Linked DNA regions of Homo sapiens: region 2 is linked to region 1. A link means that fine-mapping ties the variant in region 1 to the expression of a gene that starts in the linked region. Tissue or cell type: whole blood. Region 1 holds a variant in brackets; the other region holds the start of a gene. All regions are shown on one strand. Distances are from middle to middle.

Region 1 (8,256 bases):
ATGGTCTTCATCTCCTGACCTCGTGATGCACCCGTCCTGCCCATCTCGGCCTCCCAAAGTGCTGGGATTACAAGCGTGAGCCACCATGCCCAGCCAGTGTTTTTTATTTTTTAAACTTGTCTTAGCACATTTAATTCCCACAATGTTATGAATTAGATTCTCTGTTTCACAGAGGAGGAGACAGCGCACAGAGCCAGGAAGGGGTGGAGGTAAGATTAGCTCCAGAGTCTGAGCTCCACCCCATGCCATGTGCCCTGTCCAGCCTCCCAGATGAGCAGCCTCCCGCTGGAAGGCCCAAGCTCCATAGAGCAGCCTGCAAGGGGTTCTTCACCCGCTGCCTGCACCCCACCTTTCCAGCCTCAGCCCCAGACCAACCTCTGCTCTGTGCACACTAGCTCTTCTTTCCCCAGTTGATTTTCAGGCCTCTATGTCTTTGTGGATCCCTTTCCCCTGAGCAGCCTTGTCTACTTTTCACCAGCAAAATCTGTTCCCTCCAACCCTTAGGCCTCACCTTCAAGGCTCTTGCCTCTGTGAAGCCCCTTCAGCTACCCCACCGCCACCCGACCTGCCCTGTTCTCTGGGTCTGTGTTCCAGCTCTTGGTTCAGGCCTCCATGCAGACACCTGTCATGTGACATCACTGTGAGTTATGCTGGAATCCAGTTCCTCATACCAGGGTGTCAGCTTCTGCATGATGACAAGGAGCAAGCCCAGGCCCAAGCTGAGGATCCTGACAGACCGTGGCTTGGTTTCTGGTTCTGCCACCTCCTTTGTGGGTGCCTCGAACAAAATACTTAATTCATTGTGCCTCAGAGGGGTCCTGAGTGTTTTTGGCAATATGTGTAAAGTTCCTGATACACAGTAGATGCTTCATAAATGCTGGTTTCTTATTATCAAAGACAATGACTGTGTTATATTTTTCTCTGAATTTAAAAAAAGCTTCTGTATGATCATAAAATGACATAAACAGTGAATTGATGTGAAAGGCAACTTGGTAATAACCTTGAACATTTTAAATACACTTGCCCTTTGACCCAGCAGTTGCGCTTCTAGTGCTTCCAGGAAATTATCCTGCAAATACATTCCTATAGGTGAGATATTGTATATGCACAAAAATATTCACTATAGCAAAATATTGGAAGCCACCAAAATGTCCAACGCTAGGGAACTGTTCAAAATTGTACTGTGTCCATCAGATGGGATACTATGAATCATGTACAATAATGAGATACCTCTATGTGTATTGGGATAAGCCATTTTCCAGGATTTAAAAAAATTCCAGGTGCAGTGGCTCATGCCTGTAACCCTAGCACTTTCGGGAGGATCATATGAGCCCAGGAGTTCAAGACCAGCCTGGGCAATGTGGCAAAAACCCATCTCTACAGAAAATAGAAAAAAAAATAACTAGCCAGGTGTGGTGGTGCATGCCTATAGTTCCAGCTACTTGGGGGGCTGAGGCAGGAGGATTGCTTGAACCCAGGAGGTTGTGGCTGCAGTGAGGCAAGATCACTGCATTCCAGTCTGGATGACAGGGTAAGACCCTGTCTCATAAAAAAAAAAAAAAAAGAAAGAAAGAAAAGTGCAGAACACTGTGGAAAATGTTACAATTTGTTTAGTTTAGTTTATTTTTTGAGACGGAGTCTTGGAGTCTTGTTCTGTTGCCTGGGCTGGAATGCAGTGGCATGATCTCGGCTCACTGCAACTTCCACCTCCCGGGTTCAAGTGATTCTCATGCCTCAGCTTCCTGAGTAGCTGGGATTACAGGCGCCCACCACCATGCCTGGCTAATTTTTGCATTTTTAGCAGAGATGGGGTTTCAACATGTTGGCCAGGCTGGTCTTGAACTCCTGACCTCAAGTGGTCCGCCCACCTCGGCCTCCCAAAATGCTGGGATTACAGGCATGAGCCACCATGCCTGGTTGACAATTTGTTTAAAAACCAAAAGGAAAGCCTGTACATCCAAGTGCTTATATATGCATTGAATATCTCTGGAAGGAAACACCAGAAACTTCTTTCAGACACGGTCTTTCAATGGGAGCTGGCTTCAGATCTATGGAAAGGAGATTTACTTTTTACTGACTCTTTTTTTTTTTTTTTTTTTTTGAGACAGGGTCTGGCTCTGTTGCTCAGGCTAGAGTGCACTGGTGCAATCACAGATCACTGCAGCCTTGACCTCCTGGGCTCAAGTGATCCTCCCACCTCAGCCTCCCAAGTAGCTGGACTACAAGCATGTGCCACCACATCTGGCTAATTAAAAAAAATTTTAAAGTAAAGATGAGATCTTATTATGTTGCCCAGGCTGGTCTTGAACTCCTGAGCTCAAGCAATCCTCCTGCCTCGGCCTCCCAAAGTGCTGACATTACAGGCGTGAACCACCGTTCCTGGCTCACTGATGATTTTTGACTGTTGTATGATGTGCAGGTATATGAGTTAATAAATTTTAAAAACATAAAAAATAAAAAATGCCCCGTCCGGGAGGTGGGGGGCAGTCCCCGCCTGGCTGCCGCCCCGTCTGGGAGGTGGGGGGCGCCTCTGCCCAGTTGCCCCGTCCGGGAAGTGAGGAGCCCTTCTGCCCGGCCGCCACCCCATCTGGGAGGTGTACCCAACAGCTCATTGAGAACGGGCCATGATGACGCTGGCGGTTTTGTCGAATAGAAAAGGGGGAAATGTGGGGAAAAGAAAGAGAGATCAGATTGTTACTGTGTCTGTGTAGAAAGAAGTAGACATAGGAGACTCCATTTTGTTCTGTACTAAGAAAAATTCTTCTGCCTTGGGATGCTGTTAATCTATAACCTTACCCCCAACCCCGTGCTCTCTGAAACATGTGCTGTGTCCACTCAAGGTTAAATGGATTAAGGGCGGTGCAAGATGTGCTTTGTTAAACAGATGCTTGAAGGCAGCATGCTCGTTAAGAATCATCACCACTCCCTAATCTCAAGTACCCAGGGACACAAACACTGTGGAAGGCGGCAGGGCCCTCTGCCTAGGAAAACCAGAGACCTTTGTTCACATGTTTATCTGCTGACCTTCCCTCCACTATTGTCCTATGACCCTGCCAAATCCCAAGAATGATCAATAAATACTAAAAAAATTAAAAAAAAAAATAAGGCCGGGCACAGTGGCTCACGCCTATAATCCCAGCACTTTGGGAGTCCGAGGCGGGCAGATCACCTGAGGTCAGGAGTTCAAAATCAGCCTGGGCAACATGGTGAAACCCCATCTCTACTGAAAATACAAAATTAGCCGGGCGTGGTGGCACATGCCTGTAATCCCAGCTACTTGGGAGGCTGCGGCAGGAGAATCGCTTGAACCTGGGAGGCCAGGGATGCAGTAAGCCGAGATCGCGCCATTGCATTTCAGCCTGGGCAACAAGAGTAAATCTCTGTCTCACCAAAAATAAATAAAATAAAATAAAAATAAAAATGAACATCCAAAGATATTCGATCTCTACCATTGTAAGGGAAATGCAAATTAAAACAATAAGATGCTACTTTTCGCCTGTCAGATTGCCAGCATTTGAAAGCCTGGTGTCAGTCCTGCCATACCTTGCTGGTGGTAGAGTATAATGGTATAGCTAATTTTTTTTTTTTTTTTTTTGAGACAGCGTCTTGCTCTGTCACCCAGGCTGGAGTGCAGTGGTGTGATCTAGGCTTACTGCAACCTCCACCTCCTGAATTCAAGCGATCTTCTGCCTTAGCCTCCCAAGTAGCTGGGACTATAGGCGCTCGCCACCACACCCGGCTAATTTTTGTATTTTTAGTAGAGATGGGGTTTCACCATATTGGCCAGGCTGGTCTCGAACTCCTGACCTCATGGTCCGCTGGCCTCAGCCTCCCAAAGTGCTGGGATTACAGGTGTGAGCCACCGTGCCCAGCCGATACAGCTAATTTTAAAGCAACTTAGCAGAATCTAGTAGAATACACTGCCCCCATGACCACAGGATCCCATTTTCCAGTGTCAGTTCCAAGCAGAAGATAGAACTCTGTCCCTGCCATGCTCAACATCAGCTCAGCAGCAGCAGCTACCTCTGCATGGGCACGGGGACCAGGCTG[T/C]AGGAGCTGGTCCAGAAAGGACGCCTCACCATGCCCAGCTAATTTTTTTTGGTATTTTTTAGTAGAGATGGGGTTTTATTATTTTGGCCAGGCTTGTCTCGAACTCCTGACCTCAAGTGATCCTCCCGCCTCAGCCTCCCAAAGTGCTGGGATTACAGGCATGAGCCACCATGCCCAGCCAACATCTGTGGTAAGTTTAAGAGTCTCTTGCCACAATGGCTTGGGGGTAGGAAGGCAGGTGCGTCAAGGGTATGAGGAGGAGAGTTCTGGGTGCTCTAGTACCCATTGATACTTTGGTCTGGAGAATTCTTTGTTGTGGCGGGGGTATCCTATGCCCTACAGGATGTTTAGTAGCATCCTTCCCCTCTCTCACTAAATGCCAGTAGCACCCCGCACCCCCCTACAGTTTGACAACCAAAAGTGTCTCCACACATTGCCAAATGTCACCCAGGGATAGGGTTGCCAGACTTAGCTAATAAAAGTTCAAACCACCCAGTTAAATTTGAATTTGTATTTCATACATATAACAAATTTTTTTTCTAGAATTGGACAACACCTCATTCTATAAAACAGAATGAATGTTCCTACAAATAACTTTTCAGTATAAGGATGCCCCAAATGACATATTGAGTAGAGAACATACTTATACTGAAAAAGTACTTATTTATCTGATTCTAAGATTTCACCTGGTGGCCTGCATTTTTCTGGCAATCTTAGGGGTGAGGGTGGAGGACTGCCCTGTGTTGAGAACAATTGCCATAGGACACCAGTCATAGAGGAGAAGCTGAGGCCATCCTCGCTCTCTAGGGCTTACAGTCTCATCGTGGGACACAAACACATCAGGATGCTGCACTGAGAGGCATCACCATGGGTCTTTAGGGCCCGACAGGCGGGGCCCTCCAATGCCTGGTTCTGCTTCTCTTTCCTCCTATTCAAAATGTTCTTCCCAAGGGTGTCCATGACCTAGTCACACTCTGTCCCCTGCAGGCAGAAATCACTGAAACCAAAAGAGCGACACTGAGCCTCCAGGGGGCAGATGCAAGGGGCCGGTGGCCTCCTGAAATCGGAATCTCCTGCAAGAAGCACGGTTCTGAGTGTGGGAGAGCTGTGAGGCTGGACCGTGGGGCTGTCCCCAACCAGAGCTTAGGGACCCTGGAGGGCGGGCCCCCGGGTCTAGCAGAGGGGAGCAGATTCAGAAGCTGGAGGCAGTGACTGAAGCTGTGCAGTTATTTGTTCAGTTTTTCTTTTTCTTTTTTGTTTTTTGAGACGTAGTTTCACTCTTATTGCCCAGGCTGGAGTGCAATGGCGCAATCTTGGCTCACTGCAACCTCTGCCTCCCAGGTTCAAGCGATTCTCCTGCCTCAGCCTTCTGAATAGCTGGGATTACAGGCATGCGACACCACGCCCAGCTAAATTTATTTGTATTTTTAGTAGAGATGGGGTTTCTCCATGTTGGTCAGGCTGGTCTCGATCTCCTGATCTCAGGTGATCCACCTGCCTCTCTCCCAAAGTGCTGAGATTACAGGCATGAGCCACCGTGCCTGGCCTGTTCAGTTTGTTTATTGAGGACTCACTGTGTACCAGGCACTGCGCTGGGTGCTGGGGAGGCCTCAGCAAACAAACAGACCAAGCCAGGTCCTGCTCAGGGCAGATGGAGGAGGCAGGAAGGGGGAACCATCAGCACTGTCTGTGAGGGGAGGCATGCACGGTGGGAATCCAGAGGATGAACCTTTCTGGTCTGCGGGGCAGAGGGGTGATCAGCGAGTGCTTTGGTCAGGTCTGGGCATACGTGGAGTCCAATATGCTTGAGACATCCGAGGCAGATGTCCAGAGGCCAGGAGAACTGTGGGGTCTGGGCTTGGGAGCGGACTCTGGGCAGAAGCCCTGGAGGAGGGTGGAATGGTAACAGCCGGCAAGAGAGAGGAGGACAAGGACAGAACCGGGAGGCTTGGGGCTTCGGGGCAGTGAGGGAGACTTAGAAGAGGCCGCCAGAGGGGCAGGGTGATGCACGCCTGTAGTCCCAGCACTTTGGGAGGCTGAGCTTGGAGGATTACTTGAGCCCAGGAGACTAGCCTGGTGCGACATGGCGAAACCCCGTCTTTACAAAATACAAAAATTAGCTGGGAGTGGTGACTTGCGCACCTGTAGTCCCAGCTCCTTGTGGGGCTGAGGCGAGAGGATCGCTTGAGCCCAGAAGTTTGAGACTGCAGTGAGCAGTGTTTGTGCTACTGTGCTCCAGCCTGGGTAACAAAGCGAGACCCTATCTCAAAAAAAAAAAGGAAAAAAAGAAGAAGTACCCAGAGGGAGACCTCAGGATTGTCGTCAGGTGGCCAACGGAGAAGAGAATTTCCAGGAGGAAGCCATCACTGCAAGCAGTACTAGGAGGTGGGCAGGGGAGCTGGAGATGGTGGTGGTCCCTTAGGGCCATGAGTCTCCCAGCTGCAAGCCTTCAGGCCCCAGCGGCTGGAGGACAATGCTGGGACACCCTCTCCCCACCACTAGGCCACTCCAGCTCACTCTAGCCTCCTTGCTGTTCTTCAGCCATTGAAAGGCCTCAGGGCCTTGGCCCTTGCTGTTCCCTCTGCCTGAAGGATGTCCCAGTATATCCTTATCTCCTTCAGATATTTACTCACATGCGGGCCTTCTCCACTAGGCCTTCCCTAACAATCATTTTCAAATAGCAATGTCCCCTCTCATCATTACCGAATCTCCTTCCCTACTTAATTTTTCTCCATAATACATTTATCGCCATCCAACAAAACCTATACTACAATTTTCTAAACGTTCCTTTTGATTTGAATGTATAATATGTTTTGTGGTTCAAAATTGAAAGCTGTGCTCAGTCTTTTGCTATTTCAAACAGTACCGCAATGAATAACCTTGTGCCTGTATCATTTTTTACGGTGCCGATAAAGCTCTAGGCTAAAGCCTCAGAAATGAGGTTGCTGGGTCAAGGAATAAGTGCATTTATAATTGTATGTATTAATTTTTTCCTGCTCCCTGAATAGAATGTAAGTTCCATAGGAGGGCAGGGATTCTTAAACTCGTACTCATTGTTGTATCTCCAGTCCTTCAAACAAAGACATGGCACAGAGTAGGTACTCAATAAATACATGTTAACGTCAGGCACTGTAGCTCATGCCTGTAATCCCAGCACTTTGGGAGGCCAAGGCCTGCGGGTCACCCTAGGTCAGGAGTTTGAGACCAGCCTGGCCAACATGGTGAGACCCTGTCTCTACTAAAAATACAAAAATTAGCCGGGCATGGTGGCAGGTGCCTGTAATCCCAGCTACTCGGGACGCTGAGGCAGGAGAATCACTTGAACCCAGGAGGCGGAGGTTGCAGTGAGCTGAGATGGCGCCATTGCACTCCAGACTGGGGGACAAGAGCGAGACTTTGTCTCAAAAAATAATAAATAAATAAATAAACAAACCCATGTTGAATGAATGAATGGCCCCACTCCTGGAAGTCTGAAGATTTACTTCTGACAACCATTTCAAACTCTGTCTCCTTCACAGCCACAGGGCTGTGGATCCTTAGAGACCTTTGAAAGCAAGAGATGGTCCCATCTCCTGTTCCAGAAGTCACAGCGCTTTTTCTTCATCAGATACAGGGTGCCATTCTAAGGCCTGGCTGTTTTCTCCCTCTGCTTCCCTTACTTTACTCAGGAAGGCATTAAAAAAGTATGTCTTGGCCAGTTGTGGTGGTTCACACCTGTAATCCCACCACTTTGGGAGGCTGAGGCGGGTGGATCACCTGAGGTCAGGAGTTCGAGGCCAGCCTGGCTAACATGGTGAGACCCCATCTCTACTAAAATTACAAAAATTGGCCAGGCGTGGTGGTGTGCACCCGTAGTCCCAGCTACTCAGGAGGTTGAGGCAGGAGAATTGGTTGAACCTGGGAGGCGGAGCCTGCAGTAAGTCGAGATTGCGCCACTGCACTCCAGCCTGGGTGACAGAGCCAGACTCCATCTCAAAAAAAAAAAAAAGGTATGTCTCGGCTGGCATGGTGGCTGATACCTGTAATCTCAGGACTTTGGAAGGCCGAGGCAGGAGGATCACATGATCCCAGGAGTTTGAGACCAGCCTGGGCAACATAGCAAGACGTTGTCTTAAAAAAAAAGAAAGAAAGAAAAAGTATGTATACCAAGCAGCATGCATCATTTCACTTCTAAATTCCCTTCCTTGACTACAGTTTCTTCTTTTT
Region 2 (6,128 bases), 27 kb after region 1:
CACGCCTGTAATCCCAGCACTTTGGGAGGCCAAGGTGGGTGGATCACCTAAGGTCAGGAGTTCGAGACCAGCCTGGCCAACATGGTGAATCCCTATCTCTACAAAAATACAAAAATTAGCTGGGCATGATGGCAGTGGCTGTAATTCCAGCTACTGGGGAGGCTGAGGTGGCAGAATTTCTTGAACCCAGGAGGCAGAGGTTGCAGTGAGCCAAGATCATTCCATTGTACTCCAGCCTGGGTGGCAGAGCAAGACTTCGTCTCAAAAATAAATAAAATAAATAAATATATTTAGATGTTTTGGGCATCAGCATGGAGAGATCCATTGGAGATCTTATGGTTTGGTCAAACCTGTTTTACAGGTGGGGAAACTGATGTGGAGAGTGGCAGGACCTGGCTTCACCATCCTGGTTAGGGATCTCCTGTCATCAAAGAAGATTCTAGTCTGCTCCTTTCCAGATCTCTGAGCCCTGCAGAAACAACAGGTGGCTTCCTCTTCTTCCTCTGTAGAGGGTGAAACCCAGAGGCCAAGACTGGGAGGAGGGTTCTGGGCTTTCATCCATACTCTCTAGCTCCTAACATTGCCCAGAGGTGGGCCACCCTGCCTACCCATCAGCCTCCCCCTGCCCCTCTGCCAAATCTGGACATAATTATAGTAATTATACTGCATATAAACAGTATAGGTAACTGCTTCTGAGCATAATTACAGGAGATGTTTACATACTCACAACAGCATCAGAGTAAATGATAGCTTACTTTCCCCTTAATACTTAGATATCAGGGACCTATCCGGGATAATTAGCCAAATCTCAGTAGTGAGGGTGTGGTAAAGACCTTACCGTTTCCCACTACCTGCAAAGCAGGAAGGCACCTCAGACAAAGCAGGGTCCCAGCCAAGATTTCACAGGACATCAAGAAGCCTGCAGAGAAGTGGGCTAACATCTACTGGGCACCTACTGTATGCAGGCGCTCAGGGGAGGCCAGCAAACACAAGCGAGTTCTTTCAACCTATTAACAATTCTGCAGGCTGATATTAGTGTATCCTCACTTTACAGGTCCGGACATGGGTTCTCAGAAGCTTAGTGCACAGGGTCACCCACAGCGAGCCATGGAGCTGGGCATGGGCGCTTTCCACGGTGCTACCCGGTCACAGCAGCGGGCCAGCTCTGCCCTCTTCCTTTATCGCCTCTTCTCACTTCTCACAGCTTCCTCTTCCTGGGCGGCCTCCTGCAGCCCCTGCTGGCCGCGGGTCTCCGCTCAGTTCCCCAGTGTCAAGGCCGTCTACTGCCCCCTCCGCCCCTTCTTCCTGTCCCTGTTGTGTGGCTGGGTGTTATCTCTCCAGTAGAAGGGGGTGGGGTGGGTGGAATGGGGAAGGGTGGAGCACAGGGCGAAGGCCTTGCCAGGCATCCCGGGGTCTCCAGCTAAGCGAGGGGCCGCAGGGAGCGCGGCCTCGGGGTCGCCAGACCCTCGGCTTCCAACCACCCGCACACACAAAGGCTGCCCCGGCATGCGCGGGAGAGCGCGCTCGCACCCACGGCCGTGCGCACACACGCACAACTGCACAAAGACGTGCACACTCCTCCATCCACACCAATACACTCCCTAATAGGGCCCGCACACAGCCGTGCGCCCTCACATACACCACACCACCACCACCACCACCACACACACACACACACACTCTCACACGGACTCGCACGCGGGTGGACCCCCTCCCCCACCACAAACGCCGACCTTGGGGCCCTGACGCGTCCCGCCGCGCTGCCCTGCCTCGCTGGGCGGCGCGCGCACACGCAGACGCGCACACACACACACATACACACACGCACACACCCCGCGCGGTTCCACGCCCCTGGCCGCGGCCCGGGCGCTGCGCTGCTCGACGCGGCGGGCGGCGGGCGGGGACCGGGGGCGGGGGCGGCGGCGGCGGCCGGGAGAGCGGAGGAGGCGGAGCAGGGAGCCGGGAGCGGGCTGGCCCGCGCTCCTCCTGCTGGCTGGGGATTTTCCAGCCTGGGCGCTGACGCCGCGGACCTCCCTGCGACCGTCGCGGACCATGGGCGACAAAGGGACCCGGTGAGTGCAGGGCGGCCGCCCGGCGGGGGGCGCGTGGGGGCGACCTCGGCGAGGACACGGGCGGGGGCTCCGATTGCGTCCTGGTTCTGCGTTCGCGGCCACCGCGGGATCTAGTACCAGCTCTCCTCCACCCGAGGTCTCCTGTGTGGTCTCCCCGGCAGGGCCGTGGGCGGGGGGACCCAAAGGGCGAGGGCCGGGCCGCCCCATGTGGGCCGCAGCTCCTGGCCCGGACACACAGCTCGCTGACACCCAGCATTGGCCGGCAGCCGCAGAGACGCACGGGGGCAGGTTGACACACAATACACGCACGGGCACACTAACCCGTGGCACAGGCATGCTGGCGCACACACTGGCAACCGCTAGCACACGCTCATCACACGCAGTGGCACGCCGTCATACACGCCTCGGTCAACACATTCTTGCTGACAGCCTTGTTGGCATGCACAGCTCACAATCCAACACACACCAATTCTAGCACACCCTCGTGCTGGCACACACGTGTGGGCATACACTGATACGCACACTGTCACCTGCACTCGCTGTAGCAAACACTCTTGCTGGCACACACATCACCCTCACTGGCACACACACTTGTGCTGGCATGTCTCACCAACACAGCGGAGCGCAAGGCCACACCAACACTGACCCCCACAGACACAATCAGACTGATGCCCTCAAAGACTGGCACCCCACAGGCACGAGCTGCTAGCCCAAGGCCCGCTGACACACACGCTTCAGGCCCCACATGGCCAGAAGTGGAAACACACACATCACACAGGGTAGAGCGCCCCCCGCCACCCCCAGCCTGGGGAAAACAGATCGCATTTCATCCAAATAGATCCCATCCATCTACTCTGTTCCCTTTCCCTCTGACCTCCTGAGGAGTGGCTGGCCAGGGGCTGTTTTGAACCTAGGGCTGGGAGAACCCCTCCCGTTCTCCTAGAACCTGTCCTGAAATACTCAGAAACAGTCTCTGCCTCTGAAAGGGGAAACTGGGACAAAAGGAGGAGGGGGCTGGAGCAGGACAGCCCCTGGGGGCAGCCCTTCAGACAGGACCAGCGCTGGTCAGGGGCTCAGCGTTGCCACCCTATTTTCCCCGTTGCCCTCCCCACCCCCTAAGTGGGCACAGCAGCCTCTCCCTGGGCTCCCCCTCTTTCTCATTGTTTTCTGTCTTTCTCTTCTATTCTTGTGTCCGACTTCTGCCTCCTTCCTTTCCTCCCCTCCCCTCTCCTCGTTTCCATTTATTATTAAGCTCTTGCTGTATACTAGGCGTAGTGTGGGGGATCAAAGATGCGCAAGGCCCACTCCTCCCCTGAAGGAGCTAACAGACTAGAGAGACACCACCCCGGTGGGCACCACCTTTCAGGGCCACTGACAAAGCTATTTCTCACCCACTGCCATCTAAGACTCTCTCTCCACAGTGTGAGAAAGGGCTTGCAGAGATTATTTCCATTTTCTAGAGGAGGAAACAGGCTCAGAGGCAACTCAGGCTCTTAATGTTTAGAAACTACTTTCCAGCCATCCTCCTGACAGCTCTTCCAGGAGGTTAATTTTCCTCTTCCTGTTTTCTAGCAGAGGAACCAGAGGGCTAGAGGCCATGTGATTTGCCTAAGGTCAAAAGGGGCCAGAGGCAGGGCGGAGGCTGGAGTCCACTTGGTCATGTCTCTGTGGATGGCCCTAGGGCACTGCCAGGCCCCTCATGGGCCAGGGAGGGGAGCCCTGCTCTGTGCTGGAGGCCCAGGCTTTGGGGGGGACGGCAGAAGATCATGCTGTGTCTGCATGAACCTTGATGGCTAGTCCCCATTGCAGCTGGCTGGCCAGCACTGTGACCTAGGCCTCTGTCCTCAGTAGGAAGGTATGTGACTCCTTCCCCAGCCACATCCATCTGCCCTGAAATTAAGACCCTCTTGACCCATGAGGTCAGGCTTTTCTTCCTGCAGGGCATAGCAGGGAGTCGGAGCCATTCTCCACTCCATTGTCCTTCCTAGGCTGCCTTGTGATCGGAGTGACTCAGCCTCTCTTGGGTCTCTCTGTACCTCTCTGTGACTTGGGGGATAAGTGTCATTGTTGTCCTGCTGACATGATTGTCAGGAAGATGTGGACACCATGGGCTTCCAGGCACCTGTTGGAGACCCTGTCTCTGAGGCCAAGGTATTTTCCATGGCTCCCCCTGCCCTGCCTCAAACTCACTGGTGGACCTTTGGGACATTGGGCAATTGCCTTTACTTTTCCGGACGTTAGTTTCCCATCTGTAAACTGGAGCTATCAATACTTACATTTTAGGGCTTCCCTTGTACTTACTGACTTCACTGGGCAGGGGAAGAGGCACTGCCTGAAGCCTGGAGCCAAGGCCCGGCTAAATCCACCTGATGGTGGCCCAGACCTCCCCTTCAGACTCTCCTGCAGCCCCATGAGGCCTTTCTGTCCCTTTCCGGACAGTTGGCTAAGTAATTTGGAAAAGAAGGGCAAAATCAGTAATGGGCTGTACCTTGTCTTTTTCCGTAAGGCATGAGTACCTATGACTTAGAAGAGGAATCTGCAGATATCAAAAACTGAACATCAGGAATCATCGCAACCATCCCTCCATCTGGAATTGCACCCCCATGTGAAAGTGACAATGAAAATTTATCACAAACTGTCATTGCCCTCTAGGAACTCCCAGGGTCAAGGGGGAAAGAGGTGTTAAATACCTGGACAGGGCTGTGCGCGGTGGTTCACGCCTGTAATCCTAGAACTTTGGAAGGCTGAGATGGGCAGATTGCTTGAGCTCAGGAGTTCGAGACCAGTCTGGGCAACATACCATCTCTACAAAAAACACAAAAATTAGCTGAGTGTGGTGGCACATGCCTATAGTCCTAACTACTCTGGAGGCTGAAGTGGGAGGATCACTTGAGCCCTGGAGGTTAAGGCTGCAGTGAGCCATGATCATGCCACTGCACTCCAGCCTGGATGAGAGAGTGAGACCCTGTCTGAAAAAATAAAAAAAAAAAATACCTGGACAGGACTAATCACAGGGCAGGAGTATGATGGTTGCTGCAAGGTGCTCTGGGAACAATCATATATTCATTCAACAAATGTTGATGAGTGCCTTCTGAGTGCCCAGGGCCTGGGGATTCAGCAAGGAAGGAGTCTACTCTGTCCTCCAGGGATTTAGAGCAGAGCAGGTGGTCATAACGCAGGATGACATGTGTTGTGGGAGGCTTAAGGAGAAGTCCCCAACCCAGGCCCAGGCAGGGAGCATGGTACAGGAAGCTCTCCTGGAAAGGAGGTGGCGTTGGAACTACTGAGCTTCATCTGGAAGGATGAATAGGCCAAGGGGGCGGGATTGGGAATGATATTTCTGGCCAAGGGTGCAGAATGTGCAGTGGCTTGGAGGCAGGAAGCAAGGCGTGCAGCCTGGGGCCTGGGCTGGGGATGATAGTGAGCCTTAAGAGGTAAACACAGACCGGTCACCAGCAGTCTGGGAATGTCAGGCTAAGGAGAGAGCATTTTCTCCTGAAGTGGATGGTGATTCAGAGAAGAGTGTGAGGCAGCAGAGGGCTGGAAGCAGATGTTTTCATTTCAGAGAGATGTCTTTGGCAGCGCCAAGTAGGGTGGATGGGAAGAGCAGGCCTAGAAGCAGGAAGACCAGTGAGGAGGCTGGGGAGAAACCTGAGAACTAAGGCTGTGAGCTCTGAACTTAGGCTGCAGAGAGGATAGAGTTGAGAAATATGAATGTGAATAGGAGGTGGAGTCCATCAACCTTGCTGGTCGATTGGACCTTTGCCAGGTATCTGGTGTGTGTTAGAATTACACGCATAATCTCAATGAATTCAACTGTAATCTAGTAGTGTAGTCATTGTTGTCCCCATTTTGCAGATGAGGAAACAGACTAGAAGAGATTAAGTATTTGTTCACTGCCATTCAGCCAGCAAGCATAAGAACCCAGGCCTATTGACCCACAAAGCCCTCTCTGCTACTCGACGCTTTTGCCCAAGAGAGGGGGCCTTGTCTGGCTCACAGTTGGCCTCCCCAGCAGCTCCCAGCCTCAAGTTGTGCGTCCTTTCTGGGCCTTGC

What was found. PIP is the estimated chance that this variant, and not a neighbour inherited with it, causes the effect.
Region 2: it holds the start of ARRB1, and the variant in region 1 is fine-mapped to the expression of ARRB1 in whole blood (TOPMed, PIP above 0.99).

What each region holds. Positions count from the first base shown.
Region 1 is chr11:75,373,221-75,381,476 of GRCh38, reverse strand. No RefSeq gene overlaps it. Among named protein-coding and RNA genes, the nearest start is that of RPS3, 22 kb to the left of the region's middle. RefSeq lists an enhancer at 1-296. The variant T/C (reference allele first, on the strand shown) is at 4,051.
Region 2 is chr11:75,347,532-75,353,659 of GRCh38, reverse strand. It overlaps ARRB1 (arrestin beta 1), which reads left to right and starts at 1,999. Exons shown (of 16, transcript NM_004041.5): 1 at 1,999-2,072. The coding sequence starts at 2,053. RefSeq lists enhancers at 791-1,746, 2,809-2,858, 6,114-6,128 and a silencer at 1,979-2,258.